3 separate regions of the Homo sapiens genome follow, and regions 1 and 3 are each linked to region 2. The links come from fine-mapping of genetic effects on gene expression. A gene starts in region 2. Each other region holds a variant in brackets. All regions are shown on one strand. Distances are between the middles of the regions. Region 1 overlaps GNG4 (G protein subunit gamma 4). Region 2 holds the start of GNG4 (G protein subunit gamma 4). Region 3 overlaps GNG4 (G protein subunit gamma 4).

Region 1 (4,229 bases), 25 kb after region 2:
GCCGTGTCTCATCGCACTTGCAAGGCCCTGAGATAGATCACCTCTTTAAATTCTGTGTTCTAGGTCCCTCACTAGCCTCCCTCTAGTCCCAGGCCCTCCCTATGAGCTTTGAAAAGCTTGGGAAAGTCAAGAGAATGAGCAGACAAGTCACAGATTGGGAGAAGACATTTGCAAGACATCTGATAAATGCTGTCACTCAGAATACAAAAGAACTCTTAAAACTCAATAGAAAACAAAACAAAACAAAATCCTATTAAAGATGAGCAAAAGTTTTGAAAAGGCATCTTACCAAAGATACAAAGATGGCATTTGAAGAGAAGCTCAACATCATATGTCATTAGGGAAATGCAAATGAAAAGGAGGAGAAACCACTACACACCATTTAGAATGGCCAAAATCCACAACCCTGAGAATACACAAAGCGGGCCAGGATCTGCAGAAGCAGACACTCTTGTTCATTGCTGTTGGGAATGCAAAATGCAACAGCCACTTTGGAAGACAGTTTGGCAGTTCCTTACAAAACGACACCTCCTCTTCCCATATGCTATAGCAATTGCACTCCTTGGAATTTTCCTGGGTTGAAAACTTATGTTCACACGAAAACCTGCACACAGATGTTTATAGCAGCTTTATTCATAATTGCCCAAACTCGGAAGCAACCAAGATGTTCTTCAGTAGGTGAATGGATAAATAAGCTGTGAAACATCCAGAAAATGGAATAGTATTCAGTACTAAAAAAGAAATGAGCTATCAAGTCATGACACAACATAGAGGAGACTTACATACGTATTGCTGAGTGAAAGAAATCAGTCTGAAAAGGCTACATACTGTGATTCCCACTATATGACATCCTGGAAAAGGCAGAATTATGGAATCAGTATAAAGATCAGTGGTTGCTGTGGTGGAGGCACCTCCTGCTCTGAATGTGGCGTTGGGGAGGGTTGAATAGGTGGAGCAGGAAACTCCTCTGTGTGACACCATAATAGTGAGCACCTGTCATTAGACATCTGTCAAAGCCCATAGAATGTGCAGTGCCAAGAGTGAGCCCTATTGTAAACTATGGACTTTAGGTGATATTGATGTGTCAGTGTTGGGTCATTGATGGTCACAAATGGACCACTCTGGTGCAGGATGTTCATGGGGGAGGCTGCGCCTATTTGGGGACAGGAGTTATGTGGGAACTCTGTACTTTGTGCTCACCTTTGCTATGAACCTAAAACTGCTCTAAAAAATAAAGTTTATTTTTTTTAAATGCCGGGAAGTTTGCAGAAGAAGGCTAGGAAAATGGGGAAGAAAAGTACTGTCCCAGGGCAAGAGGAGAAAGCAAGGGAAAGGGATATCATTCTTGTGGCTTTGTGTGGGTCACAGGGTCGGCCTGCAAAAGACATCAATCTTCGTTCCCTCCCCCAGAGCCCCAGAGCCCCTTTGCCAGGCTGGGGCCCTGACCTGCTTCTTGGAAACCCTTCCTCATCAGCTTGGCAGCTGCCCGCATCCACCAGCACCTCAGTGTGGGTCCTCAGCAGGCTGTGGTTCCTCCTTGAACCTACGTTTGAGGTCAGCGGTTCCCCACGTTCCAGAAAGTCAGCTGTGTGTTGCAGACATTCCCACAAGCTGCAATTTACCAGCAACCATCTTCTCCCAGTGTTCAGGAGCCTGTTTGCAAATAGCACTACTGGCCAAGCAAATAACCAGTTAGCTGAGGAGCTGGGAGAGGAAATGGTAGTGGAGCCAAAGGCAAC[A/T]AGGAAACCTTCTTTGATCTGTCTTAGCGCTAAAAAAATCTCATAGGAAGCAAATGAAATGAGAAGCAAAATTGCACACAATGTTAAGCAAAACCTTGATACTCTGGAACAAAGACATCCTGTTTTTTAACAAAGTTAATTCTTCAGGAATGTAAAAATGAATGGTTTGCCCGAGGAATGGTTATAGAAAATTCATTCTTCTTGAATAATGCTAGGAGCTGGAATATGACAGCTTTTGTCTTTTCTTCAGTTAAAAAATGAAATGGAAAACTCAAAATTATCATTTTCCTCTAACTGTCACTTTCTACTTTGTAAAAATAGCCTTTCTATTGAAACAATATCATGTCAAAATGGAATTGGCAGCCGGGCACGGGGGCTCACACTTGCAATCTCAACACTTTGGGAGGTTGAGGCGGGTGGGTCACTTGAGGTCAGGAGTTTGAGACCAGCCTGGGCACCATGGTGAAACCCCCATCTCTACTAAAAAAAAAAAAATACAAAAATTAGCCGGGCGTGGTGGTGCGTGGCTGTAATCCCAGCTACTCGGGGGGCTGAGGCAGGAGAATTGCTTGCACCCAGGAGGCAGAGGTTGCAGTGAGCCAAGATCACGCCACTGCACTCCAGCCTGGGTGATACAGCGAGACTCCGTCTCAAAAAAAAAAAAAAAAGGAATTGGCCACACAGACTGAAGTACTAGATGATCTTTGAAGGGACTGCTAGAGCCACGCTCTTCAGGCATGTGCTTTTCACCTGTACTCTGGCCAGGCAAAGGCTCGGAGGACCCTCCGTCTTCGGCTCACAGCATTTAAACATTGTGGAGTTTTTGTGTTATTGTGATTTTTAGATGTCCATTTTGTCTCTTTAGTAGAGAATCAGATAGATAATAGAAATAATCATTCTTCCCTCAGCTTTTTGCAAGCTGGGAATACAGAGATGTGCATGAAAGAGGAGGTCTTTCTCCTACCCCAGCTGCTGGTTGCTGGGGAGACAGCATGATGAGGGGGGCTGCTGTGGCGGAGGCACCCCCCGCTCTGAATTTAAAAGGTGAAAGTGGTCAGGAAAGATCCTCTGGAGGTCAGGAAAGATTCCCTGGAGGTCAGGACAGCTGATGCAAGGTATGGGAGTGGAATAGGTGCTCACCAGACAAGAAAGGAAGAGCGTTCTCAGCAGAGGGAGTGGCATATGGAGAGCCCAGGATGGAGCAAGCCCGCTACAGCCCGTCTCTCCTGCAGACTGCAGCAAAAACGCTGGAAAAATATAAAAAGCAACTCCCTGAGGACTCACGAATCACATAAGAGCATGTGGATTGGGGAGGACAGGCAGAAGCCACGAAGTCACCTGTGTGGATGGGAGTGTCCTTTACATTTGTTTTCTCCTTATTCTTGTGGCTTTGACCTGAGTGGGCCCAAGAGCAGGGCTGCAGCGGTGGCCGTGCAGGTAGCGAATGTTCTGATGGAAACCCCACATGGCTGGCGAGAGGAACTGGGGAAAGGGAACCCTGTGATCCTTTTTTTTCTTTTTCTCCTTTCTCTCACAGCTTTGCCCCAAGAACGGGCCCCAGTTCAGAATTGCACAGTGGTGGCTGCATGCAGGCTAAATCTCCAAGATAAACCCTGTCTTTCTGGTCAGGGAAACAGGAAAAGGTGCCCTTTTGAACTGGAGGGTGTGGCAGAAACCCTGGAGAGGAGAGAGTGTGAGAAGTGGATCATCTCATTCTTTTTTATTTTTTTCTTGAAACAGAGGCTCGCTCTGTTGCCCAGGGTGGAGTGCAGTGGCGCGATCTCAGCTCACTGCAACCTCTGCTTCCCGGGTTCAAGCGATTCTCCTGCCTCAGCCTCCCGAGTAGCTGGGATTACAAGCATGCACCATCACGCCTGGCTATTTTTTTTTTTTTTTTTTGAGATGGAGTCTTACTCTGTCACCAGGCTAGAGTGCAATGGTGCAATCTCGGCTCACTGCAACCTCCACCTCCCAGCAGGTTCAAGCGATTCTTCTGCCTCAGCCTCCTGAGTAGCTGGGGTCCACCACCACACCTGACTAATTTTTGTATTTTTAGTAGAGACGGGGTTTCACCATGTTGGCCAGGCTGGTCTCGAACTCCTGACCTCAGGTGATCGAACTGCTGACCTCAGGTGATCCACCCGCCTCGGCCTCCCAAAGTGCTGGGTGAGCCACCTGACCTCAGGTGAGCCACCGTGCCTGGCCGAATTTTTGTATTTTTAGTAGAGATGGGGTTTCACCATGTTGGCCCAGCTGGTCTCAAACTCCTGGCCTCAAGTGATCTGCCCAACTCAGCCTCCCAAAATGCTGGGATTACAGGTGTGAGCTACCGCGCCCAGCCTCATCTAACTCTTTTTATGAACCACAAAAGTTCCAGCCTCACCCCTTAGCTACACATGCTTAGGACAGAACCAAAGTAACATAGCAAAAGCTTTGAGAACAGAATTAGGATTCATACCACTACTCACGTCTCTTGGAGTTGCAAAGACT
Region 2 (4,229 bases):
CTCCCACTCCGCAAAAAAAATAAATAAATAAGAAGAAAGAAAACTGATACCCAGGGTCCTGGTGCCAGACTTTACACTACTGCAGCTATCCTGGGTGATGTCCAGAGATGAACGGAATCAGAATTACCTGGAGGGTTTGGGGAATCACAGGTTGCTGGGCCCCACCCCCAGAGTTTCTGATTCCTTAGGTCTGGGTGGGGCCTGGGAGTCTGCATCTCTAAAAGATTCCCAGGTGACACGCTGATTCTACTGGTCTTGGGATCCACTCTGGAACCACTTGTTGACTGACCTCTTCCTCCTGTTTAAAACTGACATGATCCTATCTTGAATGATAGTGTAACAATTAGAAAGATAAAATAAGGAAATGATGCGCTTGAAAGTGTAGACACTGATTTCCCTTGTGATTGATTAATTGAGATTGGGATTTGGGATAAAAGGAAACCTAGGATTCTGCCTTAGCCAACCAGTCGGGGGCGGGAGGTGGGCAGGAAATGCAGGAGAAATAAGATTTTGGGGTGAAAACAATGAGCTAGGGTTTGGATTTGCTTGAATTTTCAATGCAGTACTCATATATCTTTCTCACTTTTAAAAGTCTGTGAGGTGGACATGGACTGGCTTCGTCGGTTTGCCAAGGTTTAATTTTGTGCCTTAAATGGGCACTTGAGAGCTTTGTAAAAACCGATGTGTTTGCTGGCCCCGTGTTTACGGGCCTTTGTGATCTCCGCGTTCGCATCCAATCTGGCCCTTGGGCTCCGAGAAGGTACACGTGTGTGTAGGGCAAGGTCCAACCAGTGGGGCCAGGGATCTGAGCAACAAGCGCGCCCTGTGTCCTTTGTGGCAGGGACCGCTTGTGGACGGCGGATGAGGATGAGGCGCCCAGATCTTCCCGAAATATTTCCTAATCGTTCATCATGATGTTATGTTGTTGTTTTCACAAAGGGAATTAATATTGGCCTCCTTTTCTACAAATCTTGCCAACACTGCGTGAAATGTTTTCGTTGCTTCTCTATTCCCAAGGTTTCGTATTATTTTACCAAGTCGGAAAATGGACGGCGCTTAAACTGTTTTTTCCCTGAAAGGAAGAGGGCTGTAATCACTAAAGTGTTTTAAAATCTCCAGCGCAAAAGCCTGCGGTGCCACAGGGACGAGGCCTGGAGAGCAGTCGCTCCTAGAACCGGGGCGCGAAGGGCACCCCCGCCTCCAGCACGCGCCCTCCGCCCTCCCGGCCTCGCTCCCCCCGGAGTGGGGGCCTCGCCGGCCCCTGGTCCCCGTCACTCAGCAACGTCGGGTCAGCCTTCGCCGGGTTAGTGGCGACGCGGCCGCGCGAATTCGCACAGGTATTCCGCGTTTCTCCGCCGTTCCCCGCCTTGGCCGGAGGCTTCCGAGGCGTCCCTTGGTGCAGGGTGGGAAGCGGCCCGCGCCCCAACGGCCCAGGCGCTGGAGCTCACCCCGAGCGAGGGCGGTACCTGAGGCTTCGGGGAGCCCGCGCTGACCGCGGCCCCGTCCCCAGACCCCTCCAGCAACCCCGGCCCCGCCCCAGACCCCTCCGGTGATTTCCCCCCCGGCCCCGCCCCGCAGATCCCTCCAGTGATCTCCCCCCCGCCGCGCCCCCCAGACCCCCCCCCAGTGATTTACCCCCCGGCCCCGCCCCACAGACCCCTCCAGTGGTCCCCCGGCCACGCGGGCTCCGGGGGGGCGGGGCGGGGGCGCGGCCCTTTGCTGGGACAGGGGGCGTGGGCCCGAGTAGCGGGCGGGGGGCGCGGGCCCGGGCTGGGGCGGGGGCGGGGGCGGGGAGCGCGGGAGCCCCGGTGACGCAGCAGTGACGTCGGTGGCAGCGGGCGGGATTTCCCGGGCGAGACCCCGCGGCGGAGTGGGCGCGGCCAGCGTGGAACGGGGGCGAGGGTCGCAGAGTCGCCGGCTCTCCCTTCCCCAGTCTGGGCCCCCACGGCACAGGGGGCCGAGCAGAAGCCCCCAGCGTCCAGGGCCGGGGGAGGGTCCGCCTGCGCCCCCAGGCCCGCGTGGTCGGGCCCTGCAGGGCGGGAGGCGCGGCGCGGGGCGGGGCCGGTGACGGGACGCGGAGACCCCGCGGGCGGCGGGAGGGGCACGAGGCGCGCGTTTGCACCCGAGCCCGGCCCGCGCCCCGATGCGGAGCGATGCCGCTCGGCCTGGCCGCCCCCCGCGAGCACCGCGCTGCAGACGAAGCCCGCGCGTGATCCCGCTCCGGGTAAGTGGGCGCCCGGCCGGAGCCCCGGGTGTCCGCGGGGAGAGCCCAGCCCGGTGCAGCCAGACGCGGAAGGGAAACTCGGGGTGAAAGTCTCCGGACCTAGGGAGACGGCTCTGGCGCCGGTGTGGTCCTCACGCCGCCAGCTGCTGCTGCACGCGACACAAAGACCTGTGGTTCCCTCGGCCTCCTCTCCCGGGACCTCCCGCCGGGCCCCGGGGAAGCCCGCGCGCGGGTGTGGACAGCCCCCTCGGAGCGCGTCCAGGGGCTTCCGGGGCTGGGGGCGCCCGGTCCCTCCGGCATGAGGCAGGCGGGGGCTCGGGGGTCCCCTCTTCCATTTGTAGGTCACAGAGCGTTTGCTGTTTTCCCAGCGGGGACGTCCCCCGTGGAAAAGGACCTCAGTGGCAGGAGATGGCGTGGCTGGTTGGGCGTTTTCTTTGGGGAAATGTTTCTGGCGAGTGCCTGAGGAAGCCCTCCTGGCTCCCCAGCAGCCCAGACGCCGCCTCGGGAGCACTCGGGGTGACGCTGGAGCCACCGCAGCTGAGGGTGGTTTTCCTCACCTCCTTGATGGCGTCTGTCCCCGAGGCTGGTGCTGAACTGAAATGTGCTTCGTTCGCCGCGCGCGCCCGGCAGCAACCGGGGAGCTTTGTTTGGCTTGATTTTTTAAATTGCCTTGGAAATAACGCGAAACGGCGGGAGGGTGAAGTGGGGAGGAGGACAGAGCGTGGTGGGGAAAGACTCCTTAATTTAAGATTTGCTTCATTTCGAGTATTTGGGGCTAAGGTGTTAGGAAACCCGAAAATGTTAAAGTTTGATCAAGTAATAAAGTGGATGATGGACGCCGGGCCTCCCACCGTCTCCCCGGCCCCGCGGCTGCCGCGTCTCTCCTCTACCCGTCGCCTCCCAGGACTGTCAAATGCTGGCACCGGGCCCGTGCCTCTCAGCCGGAGCAAAAGGCCGCCTAGGCTGCGCCCGTGTGCTCCATTAAAACGTGCCAGTCCTGTCGTCTGCTCATGAGTGAGGTGTGCCGCTTCCCACAGTGGACAGGAAATTTGCAGCGGCGAATGCCTCACAGTAGCCATGGGGGACCTGGGCTCTGCGGCCGGCTTCTCGATTCCTCCCGCAACTCCTTTTCCTGATTTTTGTATGAGGCGGGGGAGGGGAACCAGCCGCCATCTGATCTGGCCCTGTTCCCTGCAAGAGGCGACTGGGGGGACAACTAAGTTGATAAATGGAAAGCCTTTTCCAGCCCGGAGAAACAGACAGAGGACCTATAAACTGGATTGTTTTTGAAATGTAGGGTTTGCTCAGTGACCGGTCATGATAAGAGATGGCTGTGGCACTTAATAAATAGTAGGTGTAAATGCAAATGCAAGGTTTACAGTGATGCCTTGCCTGTTAATGAGCAGCCTCACCATGGGGTTAGTTAGGCTGAAATGACTATTTAGGACAATGGACTTCCTGTTGGCCCCCACCTCCATGCACAACTCCAGTGCTCATAGGCCTTAAAATTCGCCCAAGGAAGCCAGTGGAGGATGTAGGCCTGGCTCAGAAACAGCACAGCTAAGGGGCCATTCCCAGCAGTCCTATGATTGGCGTTTCTCATGCAAACTGATGGTGGAGAAACCAGAAAAAAAAAAAGCTTTTCCTAGATTCACTTTACAGTTTTTAAAGCAAAAGTGACAGTCCCTGAAGTCCCCCAATATTCAGTGCATTCTTTGAAATGATAGAACATCAGGTGGGAACATCGCCTGTAATCCCAGCACTTTCAGAGGCCGAGGCAGGCAGATCACTTGAGGTCAGGAGTCCGATACCGGCCTGGCCAACGTGGTGAAACCCCGTATCTACTAAAAATGCAAAAAATTAGGCGGGCGTGGTGGTGCACGCCTGTAATCCCAGCTACTTGGGAGGCTGAGGCACGAGAATCACTTGAACCTGGGAGGCAGAGGTTGCAGTGAGCTGAGATGGTGCCACTGCACTCTGGCCTCAAAATAAATAAACAACATGA
Region 3 (4,192 bases), 96 kb after region 2:
TGCCTCAGTTTCCTCATCTGTAAAGTGGCTTTAAGATAATACTTATCATGTGTACTTGAAAATTGCTTGCCAGACTCAGAGGCTCATGCCTGTAATCCCAGCACTTTGAGAGGCCGAGGCGGGCAGATCACCTGAGGTCAGGAGTTCGAGACCAGCCCGGCCAACATGGAGAAACCCCATCTCTACCAAAAATTTAAAAATTAGCCAGGCATGGTGGCAGGAGCCTGTAACCCCAGCTACTAGAAGGCTGAGGCAGGAAAACTGTTTGAAACCAGGAGGCAGAGGTTACAGTGAGCTGAGATCGCCCTACTGCACTCCAGTCTGGATGGCAGAGTGAGACTCCATCTCAAAAGAAAAAAGAAAATTGCTAAAAGAGTAAATTTTATGTTTTTAACCACAAAAAAAGTATGTGAGGTAATAGATATGTCAGTTAGCTTGATTTAGCCATTCTATAATGTATACACGTATCAAAACATCATGTTGTACACCATAAATATATTCCATTTTTATTTGTCAATTATAAATAAGGAATTCTACTTTTTTTTTTTTTTTTTAGAGACAGGGTCTTGCTCTGCCACCCAGGCTGGTGTGCAGTGGTGCGATCACAGCTCACTGCAGCCTTGAACTCCCGGACTCAAGCGATGTCCCTGCCTCAGCCTCCCAAGTAGCTGGGACTGCCGGTGTGCACTATCATGCCTGGCTAATTTTTTCATTTTATGGTAGAGTCTTGTTATGTTGCCCAGGCTAGAGTCGTACGTATAAGAAGAATTAAATGACATAATACATCTGATGCATGTAGCATAGTGCTGGCACCTGAGAAGCACTCAGTAAATGTAAATGTTAGCTTCTATTTGTATTATGGTTTTATCCAGCTGCCTCCTGAGCTTGTTTAATATGGGTCAGCCACAAGAGATGATCTATTCTGAGTGTGCCAGGAAATTGTGTTTCTGGGCCCAGAAGTCCAGTGATTGCCCTCTGAAGAAAGGGGGCAGATTCACCAAGGTGTCCTCTACTGTCTGGGACTGGACAGGTTGTCAGATGCCCCGTCTCCTGGCCTCTCATCATGGATCCACAGTGGCGTGCAAGTGTTCTTTTGTGACATTTCAGCACACATGGATTATTATAGTGACTTCATCATGTTTGAGATCACAGTGAGATCTTCTAGAGGGCAAAACTGTTGCCTTATTCTTTCTCTTGCATCCTCTGAATTAGCTAAAGGGTAGATAGTGAATACTTCCTTTCTGAATGACATAACGAGGATTATAGAGAATTCAGATGAAACTGGAGCATGTCCAAAAAAAATGAAGTAGATGGGAAAAGTGAAAACTAGAAAACTGGAGAGGGCATGATAGTCAGACGAGACGTTCTTTTTTTTTTTTTTTTTTTTTGAGATGGAGTTTCACTCTTGTTGCCCAGACTGGAGTGCAGTGGCACAATCTCAGCTCATTGCAACTTCCAACTCCCGAGTTCAAGCGATTCTCCTGCCTCAGCCTCCTGAGTAGCTGGGATTACAGGCACCCGCCACCACGCCTGGCTAATTTTTTGTATTTTTTGTAGAGACGGGGTTTCACCATGTTGGCCAGGCTGGTCTTGAACTCCTGACCTCAGGCGATCCACCCGCCTTGGCCTCCCAAAGTGCTGGGATTACAGGTGTGAGCCACTGCGTCCAGCCGAGCCATTCTTAAACGGAACTCCCAGAAGAGCTCACTGGAGTCAGGGGCCTAGACTTAGCAAACCCAAGAGGACAGTGGCTCCTAGAGGAGGAATGTGGTTGTTCCAACACTGCAGCCCTTGTGTGTGCTGCCCAGGCAGCAGTGAAGACCACTGCCCAGGGGTTGCCAGAGGGGTCAATGGATGAATTTAGTGGCTGTCCTAACATGGTGGCCATGAGGGAGACCCCAGACCTCAGCAGCTTCTGCATCTCTGGGCATGGTGAGAAGCCAGGAGTGGAAACTAAGGAGGTCATCACTCCAGCAGTTGGGGAGGGCACTTGGCTTTCCTTAGAAGGTGGCAGCAAGGGAGGGCTCAATCTCCCAAGTCCACCGGCTTTGAGTTGCAGCACTCACCATGTGATTCCATTCTCTTGTGTGTCCATCGCAGCCCTGTGGGCCTCAGAGTCCATTTCCTTAAGCCTGTGCTCCTGCTCCTTGTGATGGCTTCACAGGCCCCCCACAGGCTCAGTTTTCCCCTGAG[C/A]CTCACCCATCTGGGAAATTCCTATATGGGCGTCCTGTAACCCACTGCAAACTTCAAACACTCCTATTCAACTCAACATACACGTTTTTAGGATCTTAAATACTGACCATGCTATTAAAGGTAGAATCATAGACGTCTTAGAGTAAATTGGGACCTTAGAGCTCTCCAACGCTCCTGAATTTTACAAATGAGGGAAGTGAAGCTCAGAAAGGTTGAGCTGCTTACCCAAGGTCACACAGCTAGCTTACGGGCGGGGGTAGATCTAGAAGCCTGATGTTCACCGGAACTCATTTCTCCATGCCACATTCTTAACAAATGTAGGTTTTGTCAGGATTTAGACTAACTCATCTGCTAAACTTCAAGTTGATTTATTTGAGTGATGTGTTTAGTTGATTCATTGTATATCTCTGCTGGAATTATTTCTAGCCATTGCTAAAGCGGTTAGGTCTGAAAATCAGAAGAATCTCTGTAAAATGCTGAAAGATGAGCCAATTTTTAAAACCCAGAAGGGAATGTGTATGGCCTGTGTAGCTGGAGGCTTCTAAACATTTTTTTTCTTCATCTGTGGAACATTTTTATCATTCTGGGGAAGATTTAGACATTGAATGTACTAAAAGGATTTCATTTGACTGCTATGTATTTACCCCTGCCTGTAATCCGCTAATAAATACTCGCAGGCAGAACAGCCTAATTGGCAGGATGAGTTAATGCACAGGCCATTTATCTGCCAAGCACATGACACAGACCATGAACAAAATAAGCTGGTAACTGCCTCTCCCTCTTAGCAAATGCTTGTCCGCACCCCGCCCTCTCCCAACCTGCTCTTCCTCTGGCCTTGAGCTTGGGGACAGTTTGATGCACAACTGCCATGCGCCAGCAGGCTTCAGATAAGCCTGGAAAGAAATGGAATGGAAAGAACTTTCTGGTCAGGAGCACCTCTCTCCGCAGGGAAGTGGCCACTCCAAGTTAAAACATGTGTGCTGGCTGGGCACGGTGGCTCATGCCTGTAATCCCAGCACTTTGGGAAGCCGAGGTGGGCAGATCACCTGAGGTCAGGAGTTTGAGACCAGCCTGGCCAACATAGTGAAACCCCATCTCTACTAAAAATACAAAAATTAGCTGGGCATGGTGAGTGCCTGTAATCTCAGCTACTTGGGAGACTGAGGCAGGAGCATCACTTGAACCCAGGAGATGGAGGTTGCAGTGAGCGGAGATCACGCCACCACACTCTAGCCTGGGCAACAGAGCGAGACTCTGCCTCAAAAAAAGAAATAAAAATGAAAAATGAATAAAAATAAAACGTGTGCTTATAAAATATAGCTAAATACAAGTTCTGTTGAGGAGGATGAAGTGTCTCTCTGTGTTGGTCACAAGAGTGGATTGCAATAAAACAACTAATAATGATAATAAATATGATCACACTGGCTTGGCCAGGGGCTGCCTTCTGCTTTAGTCTTCCAGAAACGGTTTAGCAAAGTCATTGTGAGACTACTGTCCTGGAACCTCCACTCCTCACCTACTCGAGAATATATCAAGGCTGTCTGGGCCTCCTGCCAGCCCTCAGTCCTGTCTCCATGCTGGCCTGCCATGCGAGGGCAGCCTCCCCTTCTTGGAGGCCCGCTTCGAACCAGTCTCCTAGATCTGCACAAACCCTCCCTCCAGCCTGGGCATGACCATGTTGTAGGCCGTGCACACAATACAGCCTACCCTAGGGCTTGTCCCCTCTGTACGTGGACACCTCTTCCCTGGACTCACTCTGCAAAGGGGCCTTTAACTGAGCACCTGTGCTCTGTGCCCTCACAGGTCTCCCAGGCAGCTGCGGACCTCCTGGCCTACTGTGAAGCTCACGTGCGGGAAGATCCTCTCATCATTCCAGTGCCTGCATCAGAAAACCCCTTTCGCGAGAAGAAGTTCTTTTGTACCATTCTCTAACTCCGTGTGTGATGAAAACGCCTCCTTTTCTGACCTTCAAAGTCCCCTGTAGAGACCATGCATGCTC

What was found. PIP is the estimated chance that this variant, and not a neighbour inherited with it, causes the effect.
Region 1: its variant is fine-mapped to the expression of GNG4 in tibial nerve (GTEx, PIP above 0.99).
Region 3: its variant is fine-mapped to the expression of GNG4 in testis (GTEx, PIP 0.97).

Annotation. Positions count from the first base shown.
Region 1 is chr1:235,622,283-235,626,511 of GRCh38, reverse strand. All of the region lies in intron 1 of GNG4 (G protein subunit gamma 4), which reads left to right. Among named protein-coding and RNA genes, the nearest start is that of GNG4, 25 kb to the left of the region's middle. RefSeq lists an enhancer at 3,345-3,845. The variant A/T (reference allele first, on the strand shown) is at 1,740.
Region 2 is chr1:235,647,657-235,651,885 of GRCh38, reverse strand. It overlaps GNG4 (G protein subunit gamma 4), which reads left to right and starts at 2,102. Exons shown (of 4, transcript NM_001098722.2): 1 at 2,102-2,224. RefSeq lists enhancers at 286-1,137, 3,603-3,897 and a silencer at 2,128-2,237.
Region 3 is chr1:235,552,042-235,556,233 of GRCh38, reverse strand. It overlaps GNG4 (G protein subunit gamma 4), which reads left to right. Exons shown (of 4, transcript NM_001098722.2): 4 at 3,997-4,192. The coding sequence ends at 4,125. Among named protein-coding and RNA genes, the nearest start is that of B3GALNT2, 50 kb to the right of the region's middle. The variant C/A (reference allele first, on the strand shown) is at 2,194.